Regions from separate parts of the Homo sapiens genome. Here region 2 is linked to region 1. The links come from fine-mapping of genetic effects on gene expression. A gene starts in region 1. The other region holds a variant in brackets. All regions are shown on one strand. Distances are between the middles of the regions.

Region 1 (16,877 bases):
AGTGGAAACTAGAAAACAGGTTCCATTTTGGCTATACCAATCCTGGATCCGCCCTTAAACCATGTGATATTGGGCAAGCTGCCCTACCACCCTGAGCTGCAGTTTCCTTCTCTGTAAGATGAGGTTCACCTCCTCCAGCTTATCTGTCCTCATCTACGTAATCATGTGTTCACTGCCTGCATAGTCCTCCCTCTCTTGCTGGGCTATGAGCTCCATGAGCGTAGAGATCTTGCCCGTCCTGTTTCCTCCCAAGGGCCCAGTGCCTAGAGAGGGTTGGCACAATGTGAAGCTTAGCAATAGGAATGCCTAACAGCCTAACAGCTGGTAACTTGGAGACATGCCTCAGTGGCATTGTTAGTACTATTACAGATAACTAGCTGCTTTTCTGGGATTACACTTTTCAGGCTGATCATTCTAATCCCTAAGGTGCAAACTGGCACCTTTTGTATGATTTGCAGGATATTTAAAAAATTTCAAATTAATTGCCAAGATTTACAAATTAGAACATTGATGGTAGCTCACGCCTGTAATCCCAGCACTTTGGGATGCTGAGGCAGGTGGATCACTTGAGCCCAGGAGTTTGAGACAAGCCTGGGCAATAAGGTAAAACCCTATCTCTACAAAAAATACAAAAACTTGCTGTGCATGGTGGCACACACCTGCAGTCCCAGCTACTGAGGAGGCTGAGGCAGAAGAATCGTTTGAGACTTGGGAGGTCAAGACTATAGTGAGCTGTGATAGTGCTACTGCACTCCAGCCTGGGCGACAGTGAGACCCTGTCTCAGAATATGAAAGAATGAATGAACGAACATTGAGCATAAAAACTCAGATCTTTGGCATCTCTTTAAAAAAAAAAAAAAAAAATCAGAGGCTGGGTACAGTGGCTCACGCCTGTAATCCCAGCACTCTGGGAGGCTGAGGCGGGCAGATCACAAGGCTAAGAGATCGAGACTATCCTGGCCAACATGGTGAAACCCCATCTCTACTAAAAATACAAAAATTAGCTGGGCGTGGTGGCACGAGCCTATAGTTCCAGATACTAGGGAGGCTGAGGCCGGAGAACTGCTTGAACCCGGGAGGTGAAGACTGGCAGTGAGCCAAGACTGCGCCACTGCACACCAGCCTGGCGACAGAGAGAGACTTCATCTCAAAAAAAAATCAGAGTATGAGTCCACCACCGAGGTGTGTAGTAGCTGCTCCCCGTGGATGGGGCAGGCCACAGACCCTGCTACTCCTTTTGATGTCCTTACCACTGCTGCCTGTCAGTTACCGTTTAATATGATTTGTATTTTGTATTATGTTTTATCTCATATATGTTTTTTTTACTCATTTACCTAAACTTCCTGACTCTTGCATGCATCTGAGTTCAACTTGTGCTTATAATGGTCAATGTGAAAAGATTCCTAAAAGCACTGGGCATAATCCCTCCAAAACAGGTCCCAAGAAAACAAAAGGGACAGGATGTGAGGGTGACAGTAATTACCTCATAAAGCTGCTATAAGAACTGAGTTAATATCAATAATTATAAAAGATCTGACATATGGAAGTATTATACATGTTTGCTATTATCGTTTTACCTCATTATCCTCTTTGATTCTGAATAGGAACAGCAGTTTCCTGGCAATCTTGAAAATACAAAGTGCACTTCTTTTAGTGGACTCAGGGTCATCTGCTTTAAAAAAGTCATCAATCTCTCTCCTAGAAAAGAAAGTGCAAAAAAAGACATTTTAAATTAACAGCTTGTAGCACCTGGAAGGCTTTTCAAGCACTTTATGAGAAAAAACTCATTTATCTGCTATTAATTGGGAGCCAGAGAATCATGTGCTAGGGAGATCCTAGCCCTTACCTGATATCTCTCTGCAGTCGACTCCGACAGAGAAAACTCCGGACATGGGCCTGGATCACAACAGCTGCCCGCTCCCGTTCCTTCTGCACAAGCCTTTCTTCTCGTGCCTGACGGGCTCTATCGATGAACCATGCTCTCGAGGTCTGAGACAGGGTGAACATGTTTGCAAACTTGCACAAACCCTGCAAGGAAAATGGGCAAGTGGGTGTTGTAGATTGTTGTGTGAAAAACACACACAGAAAGGGGCTCAAGAGCAGAGGGTGGGCAGGGACCTGGGCAGCAGAGATACTCAGGACCTGTCAACACCCTCCAAAGCGCTAACAGCTCTCCGGCACAAGTCCCTACCTCCTATAGGCTCTTTCATGCAACTCACCAAGACCAGGGATGCTACATCCTATATTAAATAATCACATCTTCTTAAGGGAAAGAGCACAGCACCTGGCATAGGATAAGGGCAGGCCCAGCTTTACGAATGAACAAAGAATGAATCAGTCCCACCCATAAAGCTCTAATTCAAACCAGGTATCCTATAGGTCAAAGATTCCCAGATATTTGAATTTTCTGGAGTAGTCCACAGTATTTGGGAAACCAAAACTGAGAGGTCAGCTTTTATTTTGCCAAGTAAGGACTCGAGAGAAAAATCCAACATGATTATTTGCTGTCATCATCATTGTATTCATCCATTCACTAAACAAATATTTACCAGTGCATACTTTGTGACAGCACACAAAAAAGAAAGGGCCATTTCAACATTAACAAAGCAAAAGGTACACACTTCAGAATGCAAGACAGTCCATTATATTGAAGATATTTGGTTTTATGTATAGCTTATTCCATTGTCCTTACAATTACCATCCTGCCAAGGACCAGTGAAGACTTTACTGTAGAACTGGTCCTGTCCACTAACGGGTGCTTTTCTGAAGAGCAGCTCTAAATTATATACTAAGTTTTTATCTAAATCACCAGTAACTGTTTTTTCCTAAAGGAACAGCTTTTGCTAGCAGCCTAAAGCACACAGCACTGACCCCCGGAGGCTCCCATATTGAGATGATTTCTTTAGATGCTTGATGACATTGCCATTCTATACAAAATGCACAATCAGCCCAGTTAAAAACACTGAAATGAATTATTCAGAAATCCAGACTTCCAGAAAACAATCTCTCTACCAGGCTACTTTACTTGAAGTAGCACCCACATGAAAATATCATCCAGAGTAAAAAGTCGGATGGCTAGAACTAGGGGCCATCTATCCTAAGTGAAATAACTCTGAAACTGAAAGGCAAATACTGCATGACCTCACTTAGAAGTGGGAGCAAAACAATGGGCCCACATGGACAAACAGAGTGGAATAAGATAATGGAGACTCCAAAAGGTGGGAGATGGGACAGGGGTAAGGATTGAACAATTATTTATTGGTACAATGTTCACCATTCGGGTGATGGGTGCCCTAAAAGCCCAGACTCCACCATTACACAATATATGCATATAAGAAACCTGTACCCCCTACATCCATACAAAGAAATTTAAAAATTATTAAAATAAACATTGGACTTAATAGTATTATCTCCTAGAGGTATTAAATTAATTACGTGTTATTGAAAGGCATTTAATAAGTGTGCTCTATTATTAGTATTAATAAGGACAATAAAATAATACCCTTTTATAACCAAAAAAAAGTTGGTGCAAGCCTCCCACCACATGAACATATCAAGGGACCTCTGTGACCCCTTCTCAACAGTGATCTGTCAAACATCATCAGTAATCCTTGAAACAAACTAACAGAGCCCACTTGACCACAGGAGGGAAGGTATTAGGTTGGTACAAAAGTAATTGTGGGTTTCAACTTTTTTAAAAAAACACTAAGTCGTAATTACTTTTGCACCAACTTATAAAAGGCTTGGAGAGAAACGGTAGCCATCTTCTGAATCATTTACGCTTCCTGCCCCAGCAGTAAAGTCTGGAGATCTCACCTGAGGACCTGCCTGTGTCGCAGAAATGCCAGGTAATCATTAGTGATCTTGCACAGGACTCGTGGCTGAGAACAGCTTCTCACTTCAGAAAAGCTTGTTATTTTTTCTGGCAGAAGCAGAAGAAAAAAATCCAGACTTAGGGTTAAATTTTATAGGTGTGGTATCATACATCTTCCTCACTGAGTAAAAGTAGTAACTACAATGCCAATGGTTTTTTAAAAACACCACTGGGTCCTCTTTATTTAATGTCTCATCTAAATGTTATACTGTATCTCTTCAATCCTCACAGTTTAAAGGGAATATGTTGAAAATAAATCCCAAAGTTGTTGTTGAATTACAGCTGTGATGGGAAGCAAAATAACTTAGAGGTCATGGAATGTTAAAGAGCTACTGAAAATTATATTTGACATTTTCCTTTTTTTTTTTTTTGAGATAGTCTCACTCTGTCGCTGAGGTTGGAGTGCAGCGGCATAATTTCAGCTCACTATAACTTCTGCTCCCAGGTTCAAGCGATTCTCCTGCTTCAGCCTCCCAAGTAGCTGGGATTACAGGTGTGTGCCACCATACCCTATCTCAGTTGGGGTTACAGGTGTGAGCCACTGTGCCCGGCCATGTTTGACATTTTTTTTTTTTTTTTTGAGACGGAGTCTTGCTCTGTCGCCCAGGCTGGAGTGCAGTGGCGCGATATTGGCTCACTGCAAGCTCCGCCTCCCGGGTTCATGCCATTCTCCTGCCTCAGCGTGTTTGACATTTTTAATGATAATGGAAAAACGTTTATGCCTTAGAAGTGAATAAAGGGCTGCCTGTGGACCAATAAGACCCCAATTACCTAAAGAAAAATGTACACACACACAGATACAAAACTAGCATGAACTATACCAACATGTTACCAGTGGCTGTTTTGAGGTACTGAAATTGCGGGAAATTTTTCTTAATTGGTCTGTATTTTCTAAATTTTCCACAGCATGCACATGGTGAAGCAGCACTGCACAGTGAGGGGCACACGGGCTTTGGGAGTCACACAGAGTTGGAGCCAGTCCCTAGCTCTGCCACATACTATAGGGAGAATGTCTAAGTCTTTTTTTTTTTTTTAAGGCAGGGTCTCGCTCTGTCATCCAAGCTGGAGTGCAGTGGTGCAATCATGGTTCATTGCAGCTTCTACCTCCCAGGCTCAAGCGATTCTCCCACCTCAGCTTCTCAAGTAGCTGGGACCACAGGTACATACCACCACATCTGGCTAGTTTTTAAATTTTTTGTAGAGGTGGGGTCTCGCTATATTGCCCAGGTTGGTGGTCTCAAACTCCTGGGCTCAAGAGATCCTCCTGCCTTGGCCTCCCAAAATGTTAGGATTACAGGTATGAGCCACCACACTGGGCCCTGAGTCTTTCCATCTTCATCTATTAATTGGCTTAGAGGTTGATAATGAGGACTAAATGTGATGATGCTTATCAGGTACCTATGGAGGTACTTGAGTGCACATTGTAGAGTGTATAGTCAGGAAGTCTAACTGGTGTATTATTTTTATAGACACAAGGATTAAAAAAAAAAAAAAACTCTTCAGCAGAGGCTCCCACCTGGACAGTTACTAAGGTTCTCTGGGTAGGAAATAATGCTGGCAGTCTGACATTTCTCACCCATTAACTTTTTTCCTATCTTAAATGCACTAAGATTCACCAGTCCTGTCCCTTGGGCTATGAACTCCTGGCCCTGTTGTTTAGAGTGAGTAACAGATTCAAGCTCCTCAGGACTGCAAAAGAGCAGGGCCCAAGCCACAAGCACAATGATATGCTCCCTCCATGACATGCAGACAGTGCCTCAATGGCAGAGGGTCCATGGAATTAGAAGGGGAAGAGGGAGCCTCTTCCCAAAAGAAAAACAAAGTTGCATGCAAACTGTACCTAAGCACTGTAAGACGATCTTAAAACTTTCACTTCTCCCAGGGGCCCTCCCAGAATAAGAAATTACTCTTATCCCCTTCCTTGAGATTATTATCCCTTCAGCAATGTTATTGGTTGATTTCTGTTCATATCATATAATAGCCTACACTTTACAGTTTTTCTCATCCTTTCCTATATACCTTCTCCACCTGCACAGTGTATACTATAGTTCGTCAATTAATAAAACACACAATCAAGTGTTTATTAAGTACTTATTTTGCTAAATGCCATGGAGAACCAAAGAAAAGGCTGTGCGCAGCAGAAAAAGTCTTGCATCAGAGAAAGCGGGCCTTGGTTCTTTTTAGTACTCCTTCTATCCGACATTTGGCCAAGTTACTTATCCTCTCTAGGCCTCAGTTTCCTTATGTGTAAATCGAGGGTAATAATAGTGTCTATGTCCTAGGGTTGCTGAAAGGATTAAATGCAACATTTATCCTTCTTGTACCTCAATTTAGTCATCACAACATTGTGATTAGGATTAAATGGGAAAATATTAATATAGGATATCTAAAAGCATGTAGCATGTAAGTGAGCTTTATTGTATTGTCCTTAAGAAGCTTGCAATCTAGTTAGGGAAACAAGAATCATATAGGTAGAAAGATTAGAAAATAAGAGGTTGGTGATAACCAAGATCATTTAAAAAAGTAAATGAGTGCCCATTATGTGTCAAGTCCTTTATAAGTGATCTCATCTAATAAGGAGAGGAGTCCTATGAGAAGATCATTCATGATCTCATCTACTCCAGTCTAGACCATTAGTATGTGGCAGAGTCAAGGCTGTAATAACTAAGAGGCAGGATTCAGACTCTTGTCTTACCTCTATATTTCCAAAGCTGAAGCATCATAAATACCAACTGCTGACTAAGCCAAGAGGATTGTCCCTGTGCAGTAGGAAAAGCTGGGCCACCAGGTTTAATGACCACCACCACTTGTTCTGGGCAGACGGTGTATCAGACACTGCACAGATTATTTAACCAACTTGTCTTTTCAACAGCTCTATCAGTTCTCGATAATCTTTGTTTTTTTGAGACGGAGTCTCACTTTGTTGCCCAGGCTGGAGTGCAGCGGCGCGAACTCTGCTCACTGCAACCTCCGCCTCCCAGGTTCAAGTGATTCTCCTGCTTCAGCCTCCCAAGTCGCTGGGATTAAAGGCGCCCGCCACCACGCCCGGCTAATTTTTGTATTTTTAGTAGAGATGCGGTTTCACCATGTTGGCCACGCTGGTCTTGAACTTCTGACCTCAGGTGATCCGCCCGCCTCGGCCTCCCAAAGTGCTAGGATTACAGGCGTGAGCCACCGTGGCCAGCCTCAATAATCTAATTTTTATTTAAAGAATAGGAAACACGACTTAAAGAGACTATTCATATTAACAGCTACTATTTATTGAAAGCTACAGCCTATCTAAGGTGGATGCTTTTGAATCTGAATCCATGTATATCCAAAACAGTTATTTATCACTAAGTAAAACAAACAAGATCCAGGGCTCCCCCGTTCACAGAATGGCCAAGCAAAGAGAAGTTGAGAGTGCAAGATTGCCTGTGGGGGCTAAGCTGGAGTTAAATTACGATCAAGTTTTTCTTTATTCAGAACTAGGTGTCAGGCACGGTACTAAAACGTATTCACACCCTCTGTGAAACCTGCTAATTACTCCATTTACACAGAAGGAAACTGAGGCTCAGAGAGGTGAGGGAACTCACCCAAGGTCACACAGCGAGCGAACAGTATTCGAACTCCAGTTTAGGTGAGTCCTGGGGCCCAGAGTCTTTCCTCGGCATCAACAACCACAGGAACAAATCACCCAGCATTAGTCCGTTTATAAAGGCCTACCGTCCCCAAAGTGAAAAGAGGTGGAAAGGGCCGCGGAAAGAGCCCCTGGAGCACACACGCCAGATCCCAGCACTTGTTCCTCCGACCTGGCCAGGCAGGGACTGTGCCCTAGAGCCAACTCCCTCAAAGTCCCCAGCCCCACCACTCGGAGGACTGACGACCCAGTTCTCCCGCAGGCCGGACCGCAGGCCCTACCGGCCTACCCGCAGGCCGACCTTTATTCGCCGGAGGTCCCCGCACTTGGGGTCGGGGCCGCAGCTGCCACTGTCTCAGCCCAAAACACCCGAGTTCTGCCAGACCCGGGGCAGCAGCCGACGCACTACCGCCATCTTGCCCCGCGGTGTTCGCTTTCAGAACCCCGCCAGGAAGCAAGCATCCAGTTCCGGAAAATGACAGTTCCGCAGAGCTTCTTCGCCCGGGAAGGAAAACTTCCCCACACCTTGCCTCCCCTCTGGCAGCTGAAATAGCGGAGGTGGGATAAATGCCCTCCCCAGCCGAGAAAAGCTGGAACCCACTCCGGCCGGGGAGGCTGGAAAGAAAACTGGCCCCTAGGCGCACAACGGACGGCTTAAGACGTTGCCCTCTGCGGGGCGGAAGTGGGGTGCGGACAGCGGAAGTTATCGCTCCGGCCCCGCCTCCGCCCCCGGCTGGCGTGAGCTGGGTGTTTCCTGCCTCTCTCAGTCCGGGTTTGGAGACTCCTGCGTCCTCCGACTTTTCATGGTAGGGAGGGCGGTGCCCATGGACTAGGGGTTGAGGGCGGCCGAGGGAGCTGGGCAGCAGCAGAGTATAAGAAGGGACCGAGAGGAGGGGGTGTGATGAGGGGCAGTCACGATAGTGGAGAGGCATTTGGGGGATTGGTTAGGGGAAAGGCCCGGGGTGGGGGAAGGGCTTTGGGTGGAGAATTAGGGGCGGGGGTGGTGGTAGGGAGGCTCCCTGGCGGTTAGGAATCCGGGAAGCACATTTGGGCTTGCGGAGTAGATACGTGTGTGCGTGAGGAAGGGGTGTCTCCAAGTGAGTCCTGAGTGCTGGTTGGAGATGGGAGTTGGTGATTGCGAGGAGAACAAAGAGATATCAATTGAAAACGGACATTTGGGGGTGGAAAATGAGGATTTGGAGGATTATGAAGGAGAATGAATGGGCAGGTTATGAGAAGGTGAGGTAGGATTCCTTGGGGCGGAGCGTTTGGCGTTTTGGAGGTTGTGGCTGGAGTCGCTGAGTTTCCAGGAAGTGGGGAAGGGGCTCCCAGGTGCGTCTGAACACACGGCCCAGTGAGGGAAAGAAATCGAGAGAGCCCAGCAGGCTGATGTGCGTTCAGTGCTTGGAATCCTGGGGAGAGATGCCAGGGGCCTGAGGTTAGGATACCTGCGCCACGGAGTTCAGTGCCTCAGCTGGCGCCTGGGTACCTATCTGTAACTTCCATTGAGGCCAGAGGTGACCACGCCTAAGGAGCGGAGGATGTTTCAAGATCTGTCTCTCAGCTGTGGGGTTTGTCTGCTTGGGATCCTCAAGGGTCTGTTCCCTGAGTAGCTCATTGTCCCTGGGTAGAGATGACCAAAGATTGGCCCAGATCTTCTTTCTACTTGCTTGCTTGTTTGTCACGTCCCTGGAAAGTGCAGTCTTAAGGGAAAATCAGTCCCAGTGACGCTGCTGAAGAAAAGTCAGTTATCCTGTAGCTGACGTTGACTAGTCCGCTCCATTTTGTGCAAAATAAGGACCAGCGGATGGGAAGAAGGCAGCATAAACCAGTGGTTCTCAAACTCTGGTCCCACCAGCAGCAACACCTGGTAACTTATTCAAAATGGCTGAAATTTCAAGCCCTGTCAGAGACTACTGAATCAGACATTCTTGGGGTGGAGCCCATCTATCGGTTTTAACAAGCCCTGCAAGGGATTAGACTAATGATTTCTTGATTTGGACTGTGTAATGAAAGGGGCAAAGGAGTTGGGAGTCAGAGGGCTCTTATAGGTGTGATTCCTAGTTTTCTCCCCAAAAAAGTGGGGTTGATGATAAACATCTTTCTCACTAGAACATTGAGAGAAATAGACCAAGAGTTTGTGTATTAAACACAGGGAGAGAATGTCATTTGATGGAAGTTGCAATTGGCGGTAGCTGTCTTATAAGCAAATTTTGGATGTAAAATGCTGCAATTATGTGACTTAGTTTAGTTGAAATGTAACAGCAGACTTTTCTGAGTTGTAGAAATGCCCTCAGTTTGGGAAGGTTTTATACAAGCCTCAATACAGTGTTTCTTAAACTTCTTTGCTGTAGGAATCCCCTGAGGTGATGCTTTGCCTCACATCCCTGGCAACTCTTAGATAAAGCTGGTTAAATACCTTAGCTAGGTGGCAGTAAGCCCTGGTCCCACATCCGAATCCCCCAAAGAGCTTTTTAAACACTAGTGACTGATCAGCCACCCCTCCGCATCTCTGAGATACTGATTAATTGATCTGGGGTGTAGCCCAGGCAAGCACAGGTGTGTGTGAGTTTGTTTTTGTTTTTTGGAGACAGGGTCTTGCTCTGTCGCCCAGGCTGGAGAGTGCACTGGTATTATCTTGGCTCACTAAAGCCTCACCTTCCCTGCCTCAAGCAGTCCTCCCACCGCAGTCTCCCGAGTAGCTGGGACTACAGGTGTGTGCCACCATGACCGGTTAATTTTTTTTTTTAATTTTTTTGTGGAGATTAGGTCTTATGTTGCTCAGGCTGGTCTCGAATTCCTGGGCTCAAGCAATCCTCCCGCCTCAGCCTCCCAAAGTGCTGGGATAATGGGTGTGAGCCACTGTGCCTGGCCTGGCATCATGTTTTTTAAGCACACGCAGGTGATTCTAGTAGCCAGGGTTGGGAACCACTGATCCCAATGTTTGAGACGCCCAAAGGAAACTACACAAAGGACTAGGTGCCAAATGCTTTAACATTCATTCTCTGAGGGTTTTGAAGATTATGGCTTTAACACTCCATTTTACAAGTTAGAAAACTGAGACTTGGGTTAAATTGCTTGAATTTCACGAAGGAAATGGTGGAACTGGATTGCAATCCAGGTTTGCCGAGACTATCCCGTTTTCCTTAACACACACACAGGCACACAAGACTTCTACAGAGAAGCATATAGAAAACGTGGGGTCAGGGATTTGGTGCGTTTTTTCCTACTGTACTTGCCTGAGCCTCCTTTTCAGTCGATGATTTTCCCCCTTCAGCTGATTTTTGTATTTTCATGCATGCATACAGTTGCTTCCTCCCTGTGGCTCTGAAGCTGTGAAGTGGGGGCTGGCTTTGGTTTATGGTGTTTTGGTTTGTTTTTAATGTGTCAGGTCAGGAATTCACTGGGCCAAGACCGTGGAGTTAATGGTAGCTTAAATAAGGGGTACAGTGCTTTTTAGAATAGTGGGCTCTAATCTTGGTGGGCTTTAAAATCTCCTGAGGGAGTTTTAAAAATTCTGTTGCCTAGTCCACATCCCGGACCAATTACATCAGAATTTTCATGGTAGGACCTAGGTGTCAGGAGTTTTGAGCTCCCAGCTGATTTCGATTGTCACCAACTGGAGAGCCACTGTTTAGAATCAGCAACATTATATTCAGGGGAGATGGAGAGAAGAGAGACTGACCATTTAACTGGAATAAACTTCTGATTGAATCAGATCCGTAGCCAGTATCTCAAGTATTCATTGCCTCTCTGTTTCATGTAACCAATTTTGCTGTCTCCTGCTTCACCTCCCCAGCTTCATTGGTAATGAAATCAAACCTTTGAAACAAGTCAAAAAGCAGGATCCTGGCCAGGCACGGTGGTTCATGCCTGTAATCTCAGCACTTTGGGAGGCCGAGGCAGATGGATCACTTGAGGTCGGGAGTTCGAGACCAGCCTGACCAATGTGGAGAAATCCCGTCTGTACTAAAAATACAAAATTAGCCAGTCGCGGTGGCTCACACCTGTAATCCGAGCACTTTGGGATGCCGAGGCAGAAGGATCACCTGAGGTCAGGAGTTTGAGACCAGCCTGACCAACATGGTGAAACCCCATCTCTACTAACAATATAAAATTAGCCAGGTGTGGTGGTGCATGCCTGTAATCCCAGCTACTCGGGAGGGTGAGGCAGGAGAATTGCTTGAACCTGGGAGGCAGACGTTGCGGTGAGCTGAGATCGTGCCGTTGTACTGTAGCCTGGGCAATAAGAGCAAAACTCAGTCTCAAAAAAAAAAAAAAAAGCAGGATTCCAGTAGCAACAGTGGGGAGAGTCCTCCCTAGAGAGGTTTGCTATGGTGGGGGTCTCTGGTCCACTGCCTCGTGTCCTAAGTTCACTGTAACTTGGGCTCAAGGACACGAATGCTGCCAAAACTTTTCCCCCAAGGGCCTTGCCTACTATTAGGTTGACTGACCTTTGGAGAGGGTGAGCTCTGAAAAGGTTTAGAGCTTTTGTTGCCTAATCTGTAGTCTCATTCTAGATCAGGATGGCTCCTGCCTTTATCTCTTAGTCATGCCGTCTGCCATTAGAGCTGGAAACAGTTTCCAAAGAGAAGATAGTTTGAGACTTCGGGAGCATTCTCAAATCATCATAATTTGAGTGTTTGGAGTGTTTACTCAGAGCTAGGGAGCCCTGTGAGGGAGGTGAGGCTTTTGGCCCTGGACACAGCTACTAAGTGGTAGGGCTGGGGCCTTATGCACAGGTCTAACTCCAAACCCTTAGCCACACTTTACCTCGCGACTATTTTCAGGGCTTTTTGTACTTTTTAAAGAAGGGAGGTGAGGCTGGCCTTTCTCAGCTTATGTATCATAGCTCTCAATCTACTAGGTGTGATGGTCTCTGGGCCAGCCACCACTTGCCCATGTCCTTCACTGGCCCCGTCACTGACTCAACTCCAGCTTGAGAGTGACTGACCCTGATGGGGCTGTGGCATCCAAATCCACAAAATGGAAATAACTATAGCTGTCTTCCAGCATTGTTTGAATTTGTAAAAGGCATGTGGTAGAAATGCAGTGGTCAAGGGACACCGAGGGGCTTTCTGGAGGCATGGAAATGTTCCAAGACAGCTTGATTGGAGTGGGGGCTACACAGGTGCAAGTATTGACCAAAACACATCAAACTGTACACTTAAAGTATACTTCATTATGTGCAAATTATCTTTAAAAAGGTATTGGAAAGCCAAAAAAGGTACAGTCATGCGCACATAATGACAGTTTGGTTAGTGACAGACTGCGTATATAACAGTCCCTTAAGATTATAATGGAACTGAAAAATTCCTGTAGCCCAGTGATAGTGTAGCTGTCATTTCAGTGGTAGCACAACATATTACGTGTTCGTGGTGATGCTGGTGTAAACAGAACTACTTTGCTGCCAGTTGTATAAGTCTAGCACACACAATTATGTACAGTACATAATAGTCGATAATAGTAATGAACTTGATAGATATATCACTGGTTAATGTATTTACTATTAATGGTTATTTTAGAATATACTCCTACCTGCCTTTTTTTTTTTAAGTGAAAACTGTAAAACAGCCTCAGGCAGGTGCTTCTGGAGGTATCCCAGAAGAAGGGATTCTTACGGGAGATGACAGTTCCATGCGTGTTACTGTCCCTGAAGACCTTCTAGTGGGACAGGATGTGGAGGACAGTGATACTGATAATCCTGACCCTGTGTAGGCTAGGCTAATGTGTGTGTATTTTGTAGTTTTGGATAAAAAAGTTTAAAAAGTAAAAAAAGAGAAAAAAGCTTATAGAATAAGGATATAAAGAAAGAAAATATTTTTGTACAGCTGTGCAATATGTGTTTTAAGCTATGTTATTACAAAAGGGTCCAAAAGTTAAAAAAAAATTAAAAAGTTTTTAAAGTAAAAAGTTACAGTAAGCAAAGGTTAATTTATTATGGAAAGAAAAAATATTTTAAATAAATGTAGTGTGGCCTCCCTGTGCAGTGTTGATAAAGCTACAGTAGTGTACAGTAATGTCCTAGACCTTCACATTTACTCACCACTCGCTCACCCAGAGCAATTTCCAGGCCTACACACTCCATTCATGGTAAGTGTCCTATACAAGTATGCCATTAGAAAAAAATCCTTCATATCACATATTTACTGTGCTTTGACTTTACATGAAGTATACTTTATGTACTTTTTTGTCTGTTTCATGATAGGCACCTTCCAAAATGCTAGATCGTTTCCCATAACAAGCATTTATTATATAAAATTAGATCTGAAAGGGGTGCTTAAAAAGTATTTGCATTTTGGGGCAAATTTCCTCAACACACACCCTCACCCATGACCGTAAGCCTTTTCTCCCCCCCTTCGAGGTCTTCACAGTTTTTGGAAACTTTTATTTCCATAAGCTACTCCTGTCATCCCATGGACAAAGGATTTTTCTGAGGGAGGTGGCTGGTCATAACTGTTAGTGTGAGGTCTCTGGGGACTGATTTCAGAGGACAGCTAGAAAGGAGGGGTAACTGCTTCTTCTGGACCTCTTTTGTGTTTGGCATCGGGCAGCAAAGACCCCAGGTGAGCTAAGCCTGAGCTTTTGAAAACATATTTTCTTGTGACTTTTCTTGATGAAAAAGGAACTGTTTCTTGAGAAAACATTTCTTTCCAGGAGGCCGTTCTTTCTCTGTTTCACTCTGCAGGGCCCTGACATGGCAGGTGATATCCAGGCCACTGTTGGGTGCCATGGAGTTGGGGAGAGTTGGCCAGAAGAGTTGGATAACCTTGAATTGAATATTGTCCATGACTGTCGCGTTGCTTCTGCTGTTGCAAGCTGCCTCCCTTTACTCCCAGTCCCATTTACAAAAATAACGTTTGTGTTTTACCAGTTATAGTTGTAGTACCCATTCATTATAGAAAATCTGGAAAAGCTAGACAATTCTTTTTCAGTTTCAGGGAATAGTTCAAACAAGTTATGTGCTGTCAGTGCCCTGCAGCCAAAAAGCACGAGGAGCATACCTGTAGTCAAGCAAAGTTGGGTTTATTTCCTTGTTGCATTGGGGTGGGGAAGAACTGTGGGACATCTCAGAGAAGGGCTGTGGGCTTGTGTTGGGTGATTTGAGAGACAGTTCAGAGAAGTGGGGCTTTGCTCTGTGTTGGATGCTGCTGGGAAGCAGGGCTAATTCTGTGATTGGGTCTCAGTGATTCCTGACTTGAAAGCAGGAAGAATGGAAGGAGGCTAAACCTCTCATTGGTAAAGCAGCAGCTATAACTCCTATTAGCCAGGATAGGGGATCTTTGGTCATTTTTGTATTTTGGATAATGTTTATGTTTTTGTCTGTGTCCGGACATGATGACTGAATGGTCCTGTTTTTGTCTTGTCGCAAGGGCACAGAGTGGCCTTGTCTGAGGGTGATGTGCTGTGAAAAACTGTTGATGTTCAATGGGAATGGTAGGGCCAGCCGTGGGGGCTACCCCAGATTCAGCAAAGATTCTGCCCACCCTTGCACATCTCCACCTCTACAGTTTTACCTGTTCATTTCAGACATGTTTGCTCTGAGTACACATGTGCCGGATACCAATCTCACTTTCCAGGCCTGCGTAAATCAGCCACTGTATCCATTTCTTTGAGATGTACAGAGAGTCAGCCATGCTATCAGGGAGATGGTAGTGGGATCTTGCTCTTTTGGGCAGCACTAGTCTAGGAGGTCTAATTTTGCAATAACTTGGTTCCAAAAGTTTCCATGTCTGTTGTTTAGTCCTCAGAAACACCTTCTCCCTACAGGAAGTGATAGGAGTGCCAGCTGGAATCCCATTCAACTTCATAAAGCTTATTTCATCTGTGATGCAGCTGAAAAATGACACTTAGCTAGCTATTGAGTGGTACATGGCAATAAGGAAATGTAAAGAGACCTGGGCAGTGCTTTAGGCTGTTTTAGGGTGCAGCCAGGGTGTTCATGTATACAGGTGCTAGGCAGAAAGGAAGTGCTTATAACACAAGAGTTAGGGGCACCCTTGTGCCTGCAGGGTCGACAGGCAGGGTCAGTGTATGAGGCTTTTTGGGTGGGTTTTGGGACAAACTAGGGGATGCATGGCCCTCTCTAGGGGTCATCCAATACCCCAGCTCTGACCAGTTGTTCCCCTGCTAGCCCAGTTGGCCTCTGATTTTAGGAGAAGCCAGAAGTCCAGATTTTTCTGTGAGCTCTCCTTAGTTGTCCACATTGGAAGCAAACTTTTAAATGCTGTGTATGCGTGGCCCAAGCAAAACACATCTGGAGGCCAGATTGAATCCACAGGCTGAAAGCAGTCAACCAGGCCTGATGTCATGACCCTGTATCCTCTCCACTGGCAGGAAGAGATGTCAGGAGAAAGTGTGGTGAGCTCAGCGGTGCCAGCGGCTGCTACCCGCACCACTTCCTTCAAGGGCACGAGCCCCAGCTCCAAATACGTGAAGCTGAATGTGGGTGGAGCCCTCTACTATACCACCATGCAGACGCTGACCAAGCAGGACACCATGCTGAAGGCCATGTTCAGCGGGCGCATGGAAGTGCTCACCGACAGTGAAGGTAAGCTCACCCACCATGTGCCTGCCTCTGGCCATGCGTTATGTGGTCAAGGAGGGCTTCCCTGAAGAAGTGACATTTAAGTCGAGACCTGAAGATGTGTAGGAGGCAGCTTGTTGGGGACTCCCACCATCTTGACTTGGTCGTTGATTTGCTATGTTACTTTGAGAAAGTCACTTCCTCACCCAGGGCTTAGCTTGCTTATCTCTGCCATGCTTCTGTGACTTCAGAGTGAAACTCAAGCCTGGGGGAGAGAGAGGTATCTTCCCTGGACCCTTGTCCTCCCAAGATGGGGTCTTGACAAAGACTTGCCAACCTGGGTTTCAGTCTCAGCTCCCCATTAGTATCTGGTGATCCTAACCAAGTGGCCGAAGCTTTTGGTCTCATTTTCTTCCTCTGGTGAAATGGGCATGACAATACCCTCCCCCGTGGGGCCATCGGCACATAGTCAGTATTCAGTGCATGTGTGTATATGTGTGTGTGTAGATAGATAGATAGATATACACACACACACACACGTTTTTCTTTTTCTTGTGGAAAGTCATGTTATTAAAAGGCAAAGAATCGGCTGGGCACAGTGGCTCATGCATGTAATCCCAGCACTTTGGGAAGCTGAGGCGGGCGGATCACGAGGTCAGGAGATCGAGACCATCCTGGCTAACAAGGTGAAACCCCATCTCTACTAAAAATACAAAAAATTAGCCGGGCGTGGTGGTGGGTGCCTGTAGTCCCAGCTACTCGGGAGGCTGAGGCAGGAGAATGACGTGAACTCGGGAGGCGGAGCTTGCAGTGAGCTGAGATCGCGCCACTGCACTCCAGCCTGGGCGACAGAGCGA
Region 2 (14,478 bases), 110 kb before region 1:
GATGTGGCCACCTCCTGAGGCCTGGGAGCCATCATGGAGTGTGAGGGGATGTCTGGAGCCTAAGGGGGCTCAGTGCAAAGCAGAGGGGAAAGGAAGGATGAAGAACAGAGAGGAGGAGATAAAGACAGAAAGAGAAAGAAGGAAGGAAGGAGGGGACAAGGAGCACAGAGGGAAATGGAGGCAGGTGGGACCGGTTAGTGCCTACTGTAGGCCAGGAGCGAGCCTGAGGGCAGAGGTAGGTGTCAGGTGGTTAAACACTAGCAGAAGCCCCTTGCCAGGCCCCCAGGCACCAGGGAGCTTCCTAAGCCAAGCCCATTACTCGGTCTTCCTCTTTCCCCAAACCAACGGGAAGGAAACCCTTTCGTTTTGTAGCAAAATCAACCGCATCCTGACCACATCAAGGGTACAAGTGGGGCAAGGTTAGGCAGACGTGGAGAGTGACAATGCCCTGGTTACTTCCCAAGCTTGTGCGGACAGCCCCGATGACAGGAGCCCCAGCCACAGCCCAGCCCTGCACCAGGCTCTCTAGGTGCACTTTCCTGCTTGAATCTGGGCAACGATCTTGCAAGCTAGATACTCTCATCCTTATTTTACCAATGAGGAAGCAAAGACCAGAGGTTAACTAACTTGCCCAAGGCCACACAGCGGAGCTGAGACCTGTTTCCAGGTCTCTTTTTCCTTTCAAGGGAATTCTCCAGGTGGACCCCTCTTAGGAGCCCAGGCTGGCAGCCTGGCCCACCTACCCCCGGGATACCTGGCTTGAGGAGTGTGATGCCACAGCCACCACCGCCTGCGCCAGTCAGCTTGCTGTGAAGTCCGCGGGCCCTGGTCACCTGGCAGAGCTGGTCCAGAGAGGCGTGGCCCACGCCGAGGGCATTCAGATGGTGCTGGTTCATGTCAATGAGCTCCTAGGGGAGAAGGTTCCATCTGTTCCCACTTGGCCTGCCTGAGGCCAAGGTCCTATGCCCACCCCTGAGCCTGCCTCGTCCATCTGACAGTTGTTGGCTGGAGACAGCCAACGGCTTTGCCTACCTGGCACCCTGGCCCTCTCCACTTGTAAAAGAATCCTTCTGCCCTGCAGCATTTCTCACGGAGCTTGGGTAGAGCTGAGCATACCTTCACCACAGCAGTGAGCACATATCCTAGGGCTGGTCACAGAAGCCTCTGGCACTGGTGACTGATCAGGGATGGGCATGTGGTCCAAGCTGGGCCAATCACAGCCCTCCCAGGGTTTCCTCTGCCCCTTCCCACTAGAGCTGCTAAAATAATTAACTTCAGACACAAGTCGCCAAGATGACCTATCTTGCCACATGATCAGATATTACGTGGCAGATGGACAGATTCCCGACACATTGTTTCAGCCCCTGGATTGAGCTATACCTGAAGCCATTTACCTCTGGTCTTCTCAGTTGAGAGCCAATACATTCCCTTTCTACAAAAGTCTGGTTGAAATGGATTTCTGCCATTTGCAAGAGAAAAAGTTTCAAATAACATGCCTCCCTACAGCTGCCTTGGGGACTGGTTTCAGAATAAGAACTAGGTGTAACTCCAGCAAGGCCATAAGCAGGGAAACAGCTGTTTGTCTAGGTTTCTTCAGTTATGCAGGATAAACTTCCTGCTCTTTAAGGATCCAACAAGATGCATGTGGATGAAAAAATAAAACTTCACAGCTTCCACTGCCCAGGCACCCAGTAGTTAGATTTCATTTACCAAACACCCACAACGTGCTGGGGCTCTAAGGATGGGTGCCCAGCCACGGTCCCAGCCATCAGGAAGTAAAAACCATGGGATTTGGAGTCAAGTAGGCCTGTGTTCGAGTCTCTGCTCTGCCCCTTTTTGGTCGTGTGTCCTTGAGCAAGGTCTTCTGCACTGGGTCTGTCTCCTGCTTGTAAACCGGGGTCATAAGAGTATCTGCCTCAGCAGGGTGTGGTGGCTCACGTCTTTAATCCCAGCACTTTGGGAGGTCGAGGCGGGTGGATCACTTGAGGTCAGGAGTTTGAGACCAGCCTGGCCAACATGGCGAAACCCCATCTCTACTAAATATACAAAAATCAGCCACGTATGTTGGCGTGTGCCTGTAATCCCAGCTACTCAGGAGGCTGCGGCACGAGGATCATTTGAACCTGGGAGGATGCAATGAGCCAAGATTGTGCCACTGCACTCCAGCCTGGGCGACAGAGCAAGATGACTCTGTCTCAAAAAAAAAAAAAAAAAAAAAATCTGCTTCTTTGCCCTGAGACGAAACAAGGTGAGTTTTCTGTTCAATGCCTGGCACGAGATATGTGCTGTTAGTATTTTTATGGGTACGTTAGCATCATCCCCACTTTACAAAAGGGGAAACAGAGGCTCAGAGAAGAAGTGACTTGCCCACGATCACTGAGCTAGTAGGTACCAAGCTGGCACTGGAAGGCGGGTCTGCCTGACATGAAGCTCCTGTCTACCCTGCCTCTGAGAGCACCCCCTGGCATTCCTCACTTCCGTGTGAAGCTCTGTTCCGGGGCACCTGGATTGCCTGTATACCAGGAGTTGCCAATCACTGAGGCATCTCTGCGGAGGCCCACCTAGCTCTCCCGCATGGGGATGGCCGGTCAGGCAGGGTTGGAGTGGCCCTCCCCAACAGCCTGCCTCATACCTCGCTCTGCGCCAAGCTCACCATTTTTGACAAATGAGCAGACAGGCATGATGGCCTGGTGGCAGCCCCGGGTGCCTCTCACCAGCCTGATGGGCTGGATGTGAGAGAAGACTTCTGGGGGCCGCTCTCTGCGCCTGAGCACCAGGTGTCACGTTGCCGAGGCAGGTTCCAGACACCTGTCACATTCTGATCCAAAATCTGTCAAGGATCAGATGACAGGTTGTGACACAGGAGAACAGTTCGCTGGTTTGAGTGCAAAGCTGTCCAGGAGCTGAGCTGCACATTTCAGCGGCTGCCACAGCCAAAAATACACACAATGTATAATCAACGTGCTGTTCTGTGGCATTCTCCAGGGACTCGACAGGGTGTATTTTAGGCAGTATTCTATCATTATTGATTTCCTACTCGGGGGGACTGTGTTCCCTCCTTTCTATGTGGAAGGAATTGAGAGCTAGGAAGACAAAGACTGAGGGAATGAGGGCCGAAACACAGGAATTCGATGGAGGCGCTGCCCTGGCACATAGTAGGTGCTCATGACAGATCTGTTGAATAAAGGGACAGACCAGTCCGTCGGCTGGACCCCTGGCTCGGCCACTCACTAGCTGGATAACCTTGGGGGAAGTCTCTCTTCAGGCCTCAGTTTTTACATCTGTAAAATAGGGATAAGACACCTACTTCACAGGGAGGTGGGTGTGAGGATCAAGTGAAAAGAATCATTTGTAAAAGGCTTGCTTTAGTGGCAGCTTCCACTCAGCACAGGGGCTACAGACTCGAATGCCCACGGGGGACCGGGAGACACCAGGCAATGACTACAGAGTGCGGGGCGCGGGGAGGGACTGTGGTGACATGGAGACCGCACGCCCCTCTCCTGTCCCTTCACTGACGGCTGCTGCACAGCCACGGCAGCTAGGGGCCACCCGATCCTCTCATTCTGCAAGGGCAGCCAGATGGCTAACAGCCCATATTCACCAGGCCAGGTGGACTGTGTCCAGGGGGAGCCTGGGCTCTTTGGTTCCCTAAGCTCATAGCACACCAGACATTGTGCTTGCGTGTCACCCATGAGACTCCAAGCATTTTTTGTGTGTGTGTGAGACAAGGTCTCATTCTGTCGCCCAGGCTACAAACTTGACCTCCTGGGCTCAAGTGATCCTCCTGCCTCAGCCTCTCGAGTAGCTGGGACTACCGATATGTACCGTCATGTCTGGCTAACTTTTGTATTTTTTGTAGAGACAGAGTTTCACCACATTGCCCAGCCTGGTCTCGAACTCCTGGACTCAAGCAATCCACCTGCCTTGGCCTCCCAAAGTGCTAATACTACAGGTGAGCCACTGCGCCCGTCTAATCTGAGCATTCTTAAGACACTCTAGCGAGGCCACACGTCCAGCAGAAGTGGAGCTGGGATTCACACACAGGCCTGATCACACCCAAAGTACCAGGTCACAACCTCTACACTAGAATTATGCAAATGGCAGTGGATGGGGTTGCAATGATGAAAAAACAATGTTAGGATCTGTCTGACCCAAAGCAGGCAGTTGACAAGTAGTTGTTGAATGCACCCATGAAGTTAGCAATAGCAGGAGAGTGACCAAGAAGTCACCCCTGCACCGACAGAGCACTCTGCATCAGCCACATCCCCATCTACCTACGTGGGCCAGAGCTCCTTAGAAGTGACCCAAACCTGTTTCCATTGCACTTAGCACGAGCCAGGCCCTGGCCTCCCTTGCACTCTCCCAATTACTCGGAATCACCCAGGAAGAGGCCTGAAAATAAGATACGCTTATATGGCACGCACAGACCTGGGCCCAGCTGAGAGCATAGGCCAGAGGCAGGTCCTGACCTCTATGTGCTAGCTTCCGGGGGATTCTGAGCACAGCCAGATTGCAGAGCCACTGCCTTGGACAGTGGTGTGGACTCAGTAACCCCGGTTCCTGCAGACAGGCTCTTACTTCCAGCACGAGGTACTGCTCCGGGGCTGGGGCTTCCCCCATCTCTCCCAGCACGCGCTCACACTCCAGGGAGATGGCATCTATTGAGGTCAGGAGGGGGGCCACGATCTCTGGGAACTGGAGAAAAAAAGAAGGAACGGCTGGTGAGGCCTGGGGGCAGGCAGATGCAGGACAGCTGCCCCAGCAGTGGGGTGGAGGGAGGAGGTGTTCACACAGCCCGTGCCCATCCTCTGGGGAAACCACCTCTCTTCTGAGCCTGTTTTTTTGCCTTCCCAGCTGCAAAGTCAGTGTGTCTAACGAGCCCGACCACTGTCATTTTCCTGGCCAGGCTACGGGCACGGACGGTACCTTCTTTTCTGCCAAAACCACCTCCCTAAGGGCCCCCACCACCCACCACACCCCCTATAACCCATCAGCCAGAGGGAGACCTCGAAAATCCAGATGTAATTGTGTCCTGGCCTTCCTGAAACCTGCCCAAGAAGGGAACAAGAGTCACCTTGAGCAGCCTGTTTCTGACGCCAGCCACAAGGGCCCTGGTATTGCGAGGGACTTTGGTGTTGGTCAGCAGGATCTGGAGAGCTGGCGACCTGCAGGGTGAAGAGGAGGCAGGTCCACACTGAACTCAAGATGGAGGAGCTGGGACAGGACTGGGAGCAGTCCGGGAAGCCGCCCACCCTGATACGGAGGAAGAAGGGAGGCACAAGAGGTGACACTGGATTGGGGGAGCATGGGGCTTCTGCTGCTGGCCACAGCTGCGCCTCCATCCCAGGCACTGGTTGGGTGGCCATTCTCCCTTGGCTTTTCACTCATTTATTCATTCAACTTCAACTGGGACCTACAACATGCTAGGCACAGCGTGGCCTTGGGGCCGGGGCCAGAGAGGGGATAGGGGAGAAGGGCCGAGAAGGTTTTTCTGGCATGACGTGGACACTGAGAACTGAGGAAGGGTAAGAAGCCACCAAGCAAAGCTAGAAGGGTGAGGATTTCTGGCAGTTGGAGCAGCCTGTGTGAGCCTGGAGGTGGCGGAACCCGGCACAGTCATCCAGTGAGAAATTCAAAGTGGCTATAGCAGAGTACAAGGAGGGGGCGAAGGTTCACTTGTGTGGGTCACCCCCACGAAGCTGGAGTTTTAGAAAGACCAAGCAACAGGCCCTGAAATGGATCACACAGAGGGAAGATGCCCAGGCTAGCTGGTGCGGGCAGTGCCACGCACGGGCTCGTAAATGCAGGGAGGGCAGGGTTGCAGAGGAGGATGGTCCCCAGCACGCTGAGCCCATTCTTGCCCTACCTCAATGGTGCCCGGACGAGCAGCCCTGGTCTAAAACCAGATGTAGAGTCAGTCATCCCCTTGGCTGCCCTCTGGCACATAGACGTGTCCCAGGCAGCCACGTTGAGCTGACTCTCTAGCATGACCCCGTGGTCCTCACCTGCCCCAGAGGAGCTGCATAAATCCCTCCTAAAGCCACAATCCCAACTGTCCTTGTAGTGAGCCGTCTTCGAGGGCTCAAGCTGACATTTCTTGCCATCCAACCTGCCTTTCAGAGGGCTGCAGGCTGGGATGGAAGGTGGGGGATTTGGATGAGCTCTGGCCCGAGACAGCTGGAGACGGGCAGAGCCCTTGATACCTTTATTCGCTGTCTTCACAGTTCAAGATTGTAAAATCCAATAGGGCTGGAAAGGGCTGCCAGAAACCTGCTTTATCTCACTGCCCATAAGCCCATGAAATTAATATCGATTCTCAGCCTTGGAGGCTGGCTTTTTTTTTTTTTTAACTTTACAAAAGATGAACATTCTATTTGGCTTTTCTCTTCCCTTCTAAGACAAGCCATTCCTCAAAAGGGCAGCGTTCTGGGAGGCCGCATCTTGATCCACTTCACAAACAATGCATTTTTTCTTTACAGAGAGGCACCACGCATGGTTGGTGGGGGGAAGCTCCTTAAGCCATCCATGGGATTAACGTGGAGTCTGGCCCCCAGCTTCTCTGTGAAGCCGCCATCTGCTCCCGTGGCACCCCACAGCAGGCAGCAAAGGTTGGTTTGCTCCATGCTCCCATCTAGCCAGGCGGGAGGAGTTTGGGTGTTGCATCTTCATCTTTCTTAGACAAGTCCTCTGCAGACAGGCCTGTCACCAGCCCCACCAGATCCAGGGCTCATACCCATCCAGCGGCCACCACGCAGGGGGTAAGCCTGGTAAGCGCTCCTGTGATCCGGGCTTGGCCACTGCCCCAGCCTCTTCTTCTCTCCTCGCTCCCCAGGCTGCTCACTCCACTCAGCCACTCTGACCTCCCAGCTACTGTGTCACACGGCAGGCAGCGTGCTCGTCTCAGGACCTTTGCACCGC[G/A]CTTCCTCTGCCAGGGACCAGCCCCGCCCCATAGCGGCGTGACTTATTCAGGTTTCTGCTCAATGTTCCTTCACCAGCAGCCCCCGAACCCCCATCCAATCGGACCCCTCCTTCTCTTTGTAGCCTCTGACCCTGCCTTGTTTCCTAAAGGTGCTTAAGACTGCCTGATATGCTCTCACAGACAACTGATTTTTTCTCCTCTCCCAACAAAGTATGAGTTCCACGGAGGCGGGGCTTTGTTTTGTTCCCTGCGGAGGCCCCAGTACTCAGCACGCAGTAGGTGCTTAATGATACTTGTGGAAAGGATGAATGAACTCGGCCAGCAAACAGGTAAGCACTTCAGAGCCACCGCTTCTGATTGTATGTTCAAGATCCCCCTAAGTAAACAAGGAGCTGGAGGTCTGGGAGAAGTGACTCACCTGAGGGCACCAGCTGGCAAGTGGGAGAGCTGGACTCAAACCTAGGCCTGTGGACCCAGCGCCTCCGCCCAGCACACCAGCAACGCCTGGCCATTCCCCTGGCCGTTCCCCTGCCCGCCCCCCTTGGAAACCTCCTCATTCATCTCCTGATGCCCCCAGTAGACCGTACACTCGGTGCCCAGCCCACGTCTTCATCAGTTTTCTAGCTCCAGGGCCTAGTCCAGTGCTTAGGCCACAAGTGGCTCTCAGGAGACACTGAAGGAATGAAATGCCACCACTTCCATGAATGATTCCCCAGGCTCGCAGCCAGATCTAAGACGCCTGTCACTGTCACCCACAGCAGCTTCACAACCCTTCAGGTGTCTTCTCTCTGACGATTCCAGTGACCGCCTTCCCCATCAGACCGTGGGCTCCTGAAGACAGGCCGGGGCCCGGGCATTTGAGACTCCCCCACATGATCCAGCTCTGGTTCCACATGGATCCGGGGCGGTGGCAGACCAGCTTCACCTCGGCACCCGAGGCTCTCCTGACGACTGCTGGAGCAACCCGAGGAAGCTGTTCCACGCTCCTACTGGCTTCTGCGGAGTGCAAAGGTCGGCGGCAAGGGTGATTCTGCCTCCCAAGGGACACTAAGCAATGTCTGGAGATGTTTTTGATTGCCACGCTGAGGGTGCTACTGGCATCTAGTGGGTAGGGGCTGGGGATGGCTACAATGCACAGGGCAGCCCCACCACAAAGAATAACCCAGCCCCAAATCTCAATAGTGCCAATGCTGACAACTCTGACGTACAGCCTTGGAAAGGGAGGCATGACTGAGCTGGGACAGAAAGATCCCAGAGAACTAGCCGGGGGCCCAGGTGTGGCGCTGTGGCAGGCCAGGTTACTGAGCCACTAATGGAGTGGCCCAGCTGGTGGGGGCTGCAGGCCAGGACCTGCCACTCATCCATGAAGACCGCCCTGAGTAAAGAGGAGAGAGCCCCAGGACCCTTACTGATGCGAAAAGGCCCATGGAGGTGGCAAAGTGCCCTGGGACAAACACCACCCCACAACTTGATCAAGGGCTTAGGGAACAGTCAAAAAGGCACCTGGCTCCCCTCTGCCATGCGTTTCATTCCAGGCACCCAACAATTCTGCCGTGGGTGCAAACAGAACAGAGGATGCTGAAATCGCAAACAGAACAGAGAATGCTGAAATCGCACATGCACGTTTGTGATTCCAATGATTCCAGCGGGAGGGACACAGAAACATAAAACAGGCTGAGAGTCTCCAAATGTCACTTCTGCTCCAAGCCCCTCCCAAGCCTCCCTCCCGCTTCCATCCTGCCTCTGCCCTGTGTGCCTCCATCATGGTGACTCTCACATTGTCCTGTGGCGGCTTTTGTGTGTGTCTGGCCCCACCCCCACAAGCAGACTGAGAGTCCTTGGAAACTGTACCCAAGCTTCATCTCTCCATTCCTACGCCCCAGTGCAGCATCATCGGGAACACAGGAAGTAATGGATTCTTGTTTACTAAGCAAATACAGGAATGAATGAATGAGCAGCTGAGAGTCTACGGGCACAGCCATGCATGACTTTCCCTTTCTGATATCTCTGCAATTTAAGAGCTGAAGGGGAGAAGGAGAGAGCAGGTCTTCCCCACCACCCCTGCTTCCTTGCAGCTAGTGCACTGTGAGGGCCACATTGGGGGATGAAGAGCCAGGGACACCTGCCTCCTATGGTACTTCCCAAAGGTGCAGAGCTCTGCCCCCTGCACACATCAATGCAGCCATGGCTGAATGTGCTGCTCCACCCCCAGGTTACCTCTTTAAGGATGAAATCTTCCCTTGATGGTATCGGAGGGCTCCTCCTAAAGAGAAAAACCAGTGGGTCAGAGCTGTGGGAAAAGCTAACATATCTGTGCTACTTGGGAGAGAGGTTGAACTTTGGGTTGGGTTCATTTTGCCCCATTCAGGAAAGAGGCTAAGTAATGAGTCAGCCCAGCTTCAGTTACAAAAGGTGCAGGAGGGCAAAAGGTCCCCGAAGCCCCACCAGGAAGCTCTTGCCAGGCCTTGGATTCCTGGGTCCCCCTCCCTCCAGACTGTCCAGCTTCCCCCGACAAGCCACATGGTGAAGGTGGGGCCCAGGACACAGCATCTGGGCCCTGTAAGCAAGAGTTCTTGCCAGAGGGGAGGCCACCTGGATGGTGTGCAAACTCCACGGCAACGGCTCTGCATCCTGAACCTACAACTCTCTTGGGGAGCTCGTGGAAGCTGCAGCTTCCCAGGCCCCAGTTCCACCCCCGGAGATTCTGATTCAGGGGGTGTGAGACAGGGCCCCAAGATTTCTCCCCATTCCCCCCAAAATAGGAAAATGCTATTTTTTCCAGAATCCATTGATTCGATTCCTCCCAAACCAGCACAGACTCTTGGGCACCTACCATTGTAATAAGAATTTTTAAAATAACAACAATAAAATAAACCTGAGGCCACACCTACCCCAGGTGCTGACAGCATTGTCCACTCCGGAGGGGTTCCCGTGAATCATTCTCTCCCCTTGGAAGGCCCACTTGTTAATTAGCTCCAAATCCTCCTTGGTCCACCTGAAGACACAGATGTTCATCTTTACTGTGGCAGTGAGGAGTGGGGCTGGGGAGGGGTCACCTGGGGCTGTGCTGGGCAGGCCAAGGGGCATAGGAGCTTGGGCCCTTGAGCTCAGAAAGAACAAGTCCACTCTGAACCTCTCCAGCTACGGAGCGTGCCAAGTGTGCGCCCTTCCCTCTGAAGCCCACCTGGCGCAGTCAAAACAGCCTGGGCTTTGGACTCCCGTGGTCCTACTTTGCCTCTTTTTTTTTCTTTTTTTTTGAGACGGAGTCTCACTCTGTCACCCAGGCTGGAGTGCAGTGGTGCAATCTCAGCTCACTTTCTCCCGGGTTCAAGCAATTCTCCTGCCTCAGCCTCCCGAGCAGCTGGGACAACAGGTGCACACCAGCACGCCCAGCTAATTTTTGTATTTTTTAGTAGAGACGGGGTTTCACCATATTGGACAGGCTGGTCTCGAACGCCCGCTTTGGCCTCCCAAAGTGCTGGGATTACAGGCATGAGCCACCGCACCTGGCCCCTGCATTGCCTCTTACTAGCTGAGTGACTCTGGGCCTGTTATCTAACCTCTCTGAGCCTCATTATCCTTCCCTGGAGAATTGGAACCCCCACCCTCCTCAGAGGCTAGCTGCATGTGTGTCTAATGATGGCAAGGTGTCCACAAGCAGCAGGTGGCAACTGCCACTATAACAGACCTCTGCATAAGCGTCCACACCTGAACCAAGCCTGCCTTTAAGAAGAACGGGCAGAGGTGTGACTCTTTCCCAGGGCCCTGCAAGTAGATCCAAAGCACGATCATTATGAATTCAAATCCCAGGAGCCCCAGAGACCCCTGGAGGGGCCAGGCTCGTCCCAACCATGTCTGGATCTCTCCCAAGCACGTGGCCTCACTGCCTTCCATGGACCAGGTGTGGGCTCACAAACAGTTTAAATGAACAGACCCAAAACACATGAGTATGGAACAAGACAAAATGATCAACCCCACTTCCCCACTCTTTTCTCTCAGCTTTTGTTTCCTTTCTGCAGATTCCCTTCCTCATGAAACAGCAGAAGCTAAAGGTGGTTTTCTGACCTCTGAGAATGATGTGGCTCAGTGGCAGAGTTATGGAGTAAGCAGTCAGCCTAGTTTTGTTTTTTTGAGATGGAGTTTCGCTCTTGTCCCCCAGGCTGGAGTGCTGTGGCACGATCTCAGCTCACTGCAACCTCTGCCTCCTGGGTTCAAGCGATTCTCCTACCTCAGCCTCCCGAGTAGCTGGGATTACAGGCGCCTGCCACCACGCCTGGCTAATGTTTGTATTTTTAGTAGAGATGGGTTTTTGCTGTGTTGGCCAGGCTGATCTCGAACTCCTGACCTGAAGCGATCTGCCTACCTCAGCCTCCCAAAGTGCTGGGATTACAGGCGTGAGCCACCGTGCCCAGCCAGTGAGCCCTTTTTGGAGCCCATCCTATCACTGACTCACTGGGCATCTGTGAGCAACTGCTTCACCTTAAACCCTGTTTTCTCATCCATAAAACAGGGATAATAGTGTCTATCTCACTGAGGATATTGAGATGGAAAAAATACACAAGTGCTTTGTGTAATGCCCAGGAGATAGGATGTGCTCCCCTCAAAATAGGCCGTCTGGGGTCACAGCGCCTGGGGGCCTGGTTCAATCACTTACTTGCTGTGAGCCCTGAGCAAGTCAATTACCTGCTCTGAGTCTCTTTCTTCATCTGCCAAATAAGGATTTTTACGGACTTGGCAACTCACATGGTAGCTGTGAGACTATGATTAATAATGAGTTAACATCAGTTAACATACTATTGATTAGCATGTGCCAAACATTGTGCTAAATGCTTTCTCAAATGGACCATTGAGAAATGGTTCATAATCCTCCCAATTGTGCCCTACAGGGAAGGTATAATAATTATCCTGTTTCTTACAGAAACGGAAACTGAGGCTTGGATGGGTCAAACAGCATCCTGGAGATCACAGTGCTACTCACTGCTGGGTCAGGACCACATCTGCTGACTTGGAGCCCAAGCTCTTAGCTACTAACTTAATGGTGCCAACAAGATACACTCACTTATTCATTCAGCATTTATTGAGCAACTGCTATGTGCCTGTGACTAAGCTCCTAGTAGGGAGCAAAACAGACAAGGTCCCTGACTTCTTGGAGCTTAGAGTCTAATGGAGAAAGTGAAGGTCAGAAAGCGATCAGTATTCAAATACAAACAAATCCATGACACTGCAATATGTGACTTCAAAGCAGGTGTTTCTCAACAGGTGCTGGAGAGGATGTGGAGAAATAGGAACACTTTTACACTGTTGGTGGGACTGTAAACTAGTTCAACCATTGTGGAAGTCAGTGTGGCGATTCCTCAGGGATGTAGAACTAGAAATACCATTTGACCCAGCCATCCCATTACTGGGTATATACCCAAAGGACTATAAATCATGCTGCTATAAAGACACATGCACACGTGTGTTTATTGCAGCACTATTCACAATAGCAAAGACTTGGAACCCACCCAAATGTCCAACAATGATAGACTGGATTAAGAAAATGTGGCACATATACACCATGGAACACTATGCAGCCATAAAAAATGATGAGTTCATGTCCTTTGTAGGGACATGGATGAAATTGGAAATCATCATTCTCAGTAAACTATCGCAAGAACAAAAAACCAAACACCGCATATTCTCACTCATAGGTGGGAATTGAACAATGAGAACACATGGACACAGGAAGGGGAACATCACACTCTGGGGACTGTGGTGGGATGGGGGGAGAGGGGAGGGATAGCATTAGGAGATATACCTAATGCTAAATGATGAGCTAATGGGTGCAGCACACCAGCATGGCACATGTATACATATGTAACTAACCTGCACATTGTGCACATGTACCCTAAAACTTAAAGTATAATAATAATAAAAGAAAAAAAAAACAGACCAAGGATCCAGAGCTACCTAATTACATTTAATAAATGATAATATAGTTAAAAAAACAAAAACAAAAACAAACCAGGTGTTTCTGTAAGAGTACGATGGGCTGAATTGCTGGGGGCTGGGGCGGGGTGGTGGTGCCTGAAGGACAAGGGGAGCCAGCTGGGCAAGGTGTGTGTGTGGGGTGCATTCCAGACACACCACTTGTGCAGCACTGGAACCACACCAGAGCTGGCTGGCCCTTCCCAGGGACCAACAGGTGGCAGCGTGCCTGGGATGAAGTGAGTGATGGAGGCGGGGGAAGGTAACTCAGGCAGCTGACCTAGCCCAGGGCCTGGCCCTCTCAACAAATGTGAGTCTTCCTCCTGCTCTACACAGTTTGTTTTTTAGGGGGCTCAGATTTGAGTCTTCAAAGGAGACTGGGCTCCAGTCCTTTCCGACTCAGAAACACATGATGGGTGGGGTGTGGTGGGGTGGGGTGGGGTGGGAGGTCTACTCTCCCTAAGGGTTCTGAGAAGGAATGACTGGCCTTCAGGGGAAGGTGGGAGAAATGGTTAGAAGCAGCATAAGAACACACACACATGCAAGTGCACACACACAGTCACCCTCCACCTTTTGAAAGACAGGGCCAGTCCTTTGGCCCGTGGAAAATCACTTGAACCTGGAGGCAGAGGTTGCAGTGAGCCAAGATCACACCACTGCACTCCAGCCTGGGTGACAGAGCGAGACTCCATCTCAAAAAACAAACAAACAAACAAACAAACAAACAAACAAAAAAACCAAGCTCAGAAAACAAAACAAAACAAAACAAAAACAAGCCCAGGAAGAGGACAGAGCTCTGCATTTGGGGGCCTCATCCACAACTCCTGGTCCTGGGACAAACTGCGTAACCTCTGCGCACTGGGTGGTTTCTCAAGGAACATTCTCCTAATGATAGAAATGGTCTGTGGTCAAGCCTGTCTGGACAGGCCTCACTGACTCACGTGGTCAATAGGAACGCAGAGAGGTGACACGCCCTCCGTGGAGACGGCCCCGTAGGAGGAGAGATGCCCTAGTCTAATGGGCACACCCCCTAATGTGGATTTCTCAGCAAACTCTTAGTTTCTTTCATAACCATGTGGTAAAACTGGACAATCACCCCTAGGGCACTGTCATTACCATACAGAGGAGAACACTGTCCTAGCCTGAGTCAATGCAGAGGTGGGAGGGTTCATCTAACCTGCTGCCCTCTAGATCTGGACTCCAGCTCTTTCTACCATACCATGGGCGCTTGAAACCAACAGAGCCAAGATGGGGGTGAGCAGAGGTGGTGGAGAGCAGGAGAGAAAAGCTCAGACTCTGAGTTCAAATCCCACTCTGCCAGCACTAGCTGTGTGGCCCTGGGCCAGCCATTTGACCTCTCGGGGCTCAGCTTCCTCATGTTAAAATGGCCACTATGACACCTCTCACCTCACAGGGAGGTGGTGAGGTCTCAGTGAGAGAAGCCACGTCCCTGTCCTGCCGTGCGGGAGGGACACTGGCCAGGTAAGGACCATGGTTACCTGTTGACGCAATCCCCGTCCTTCAGCGGGTTTGGGATCTCCTCGCACACAGTCAGGAGGGCTGCTGCCAGACACACCGAGTAGGCGGCGCTG

The links.
Region 2: its variant is fine-mapped to the expression of UBE3B in whole blood (INTERVAL, PIP above 0.99).

The regions. Positions count from the first base shown.
Region 1 is chr12:109,468,682-109,485,558 of GRCh38, reverse strand. It overlaps UBE3B (ubiquitin protein ligase E3B), which reads right to left and starts at 7,925. Exons shown (of 28, transcript NM_130466.4): 1 at 7,450-7,925; 2 at 3,817-3,922; 3 at 1,847-2,028; 4 at 1,578-1,698. The coding sequence starts at 2,007. It overlaps KCTD10 (potassium channel tetramerization domain containing 10), which reads left to right and starts at 8,259. Exons shown (of 7, transcript NM_031954.5): 1 at 8,259-8,299; 2 at 15,831-16,044. The coding sequence starts at 8,297. RefSeq lists enhancers at 8,013-8,102, 8,611-9,346.
Region 2 is chr12:109,581,458-109,595,935 of GRCh38, reverse strand. It overlaps MVK (mevalonate kinase), which reads right to left. Exons shown (of 11, transcript NM_000431.4): 5 at 14,386-14,478; 6 at 9,811-9,914; 7 at 9,137-9,182; 8 at 5,075-5,165; 9 at 4,579-4,695; 10 at 755-908. Among named protein-coding and RNA genes, the nearest start is that of MVK, 15 kb to the right of the region's middle. The variant G/A (reference allele first, on the strand shown) is at 6,919.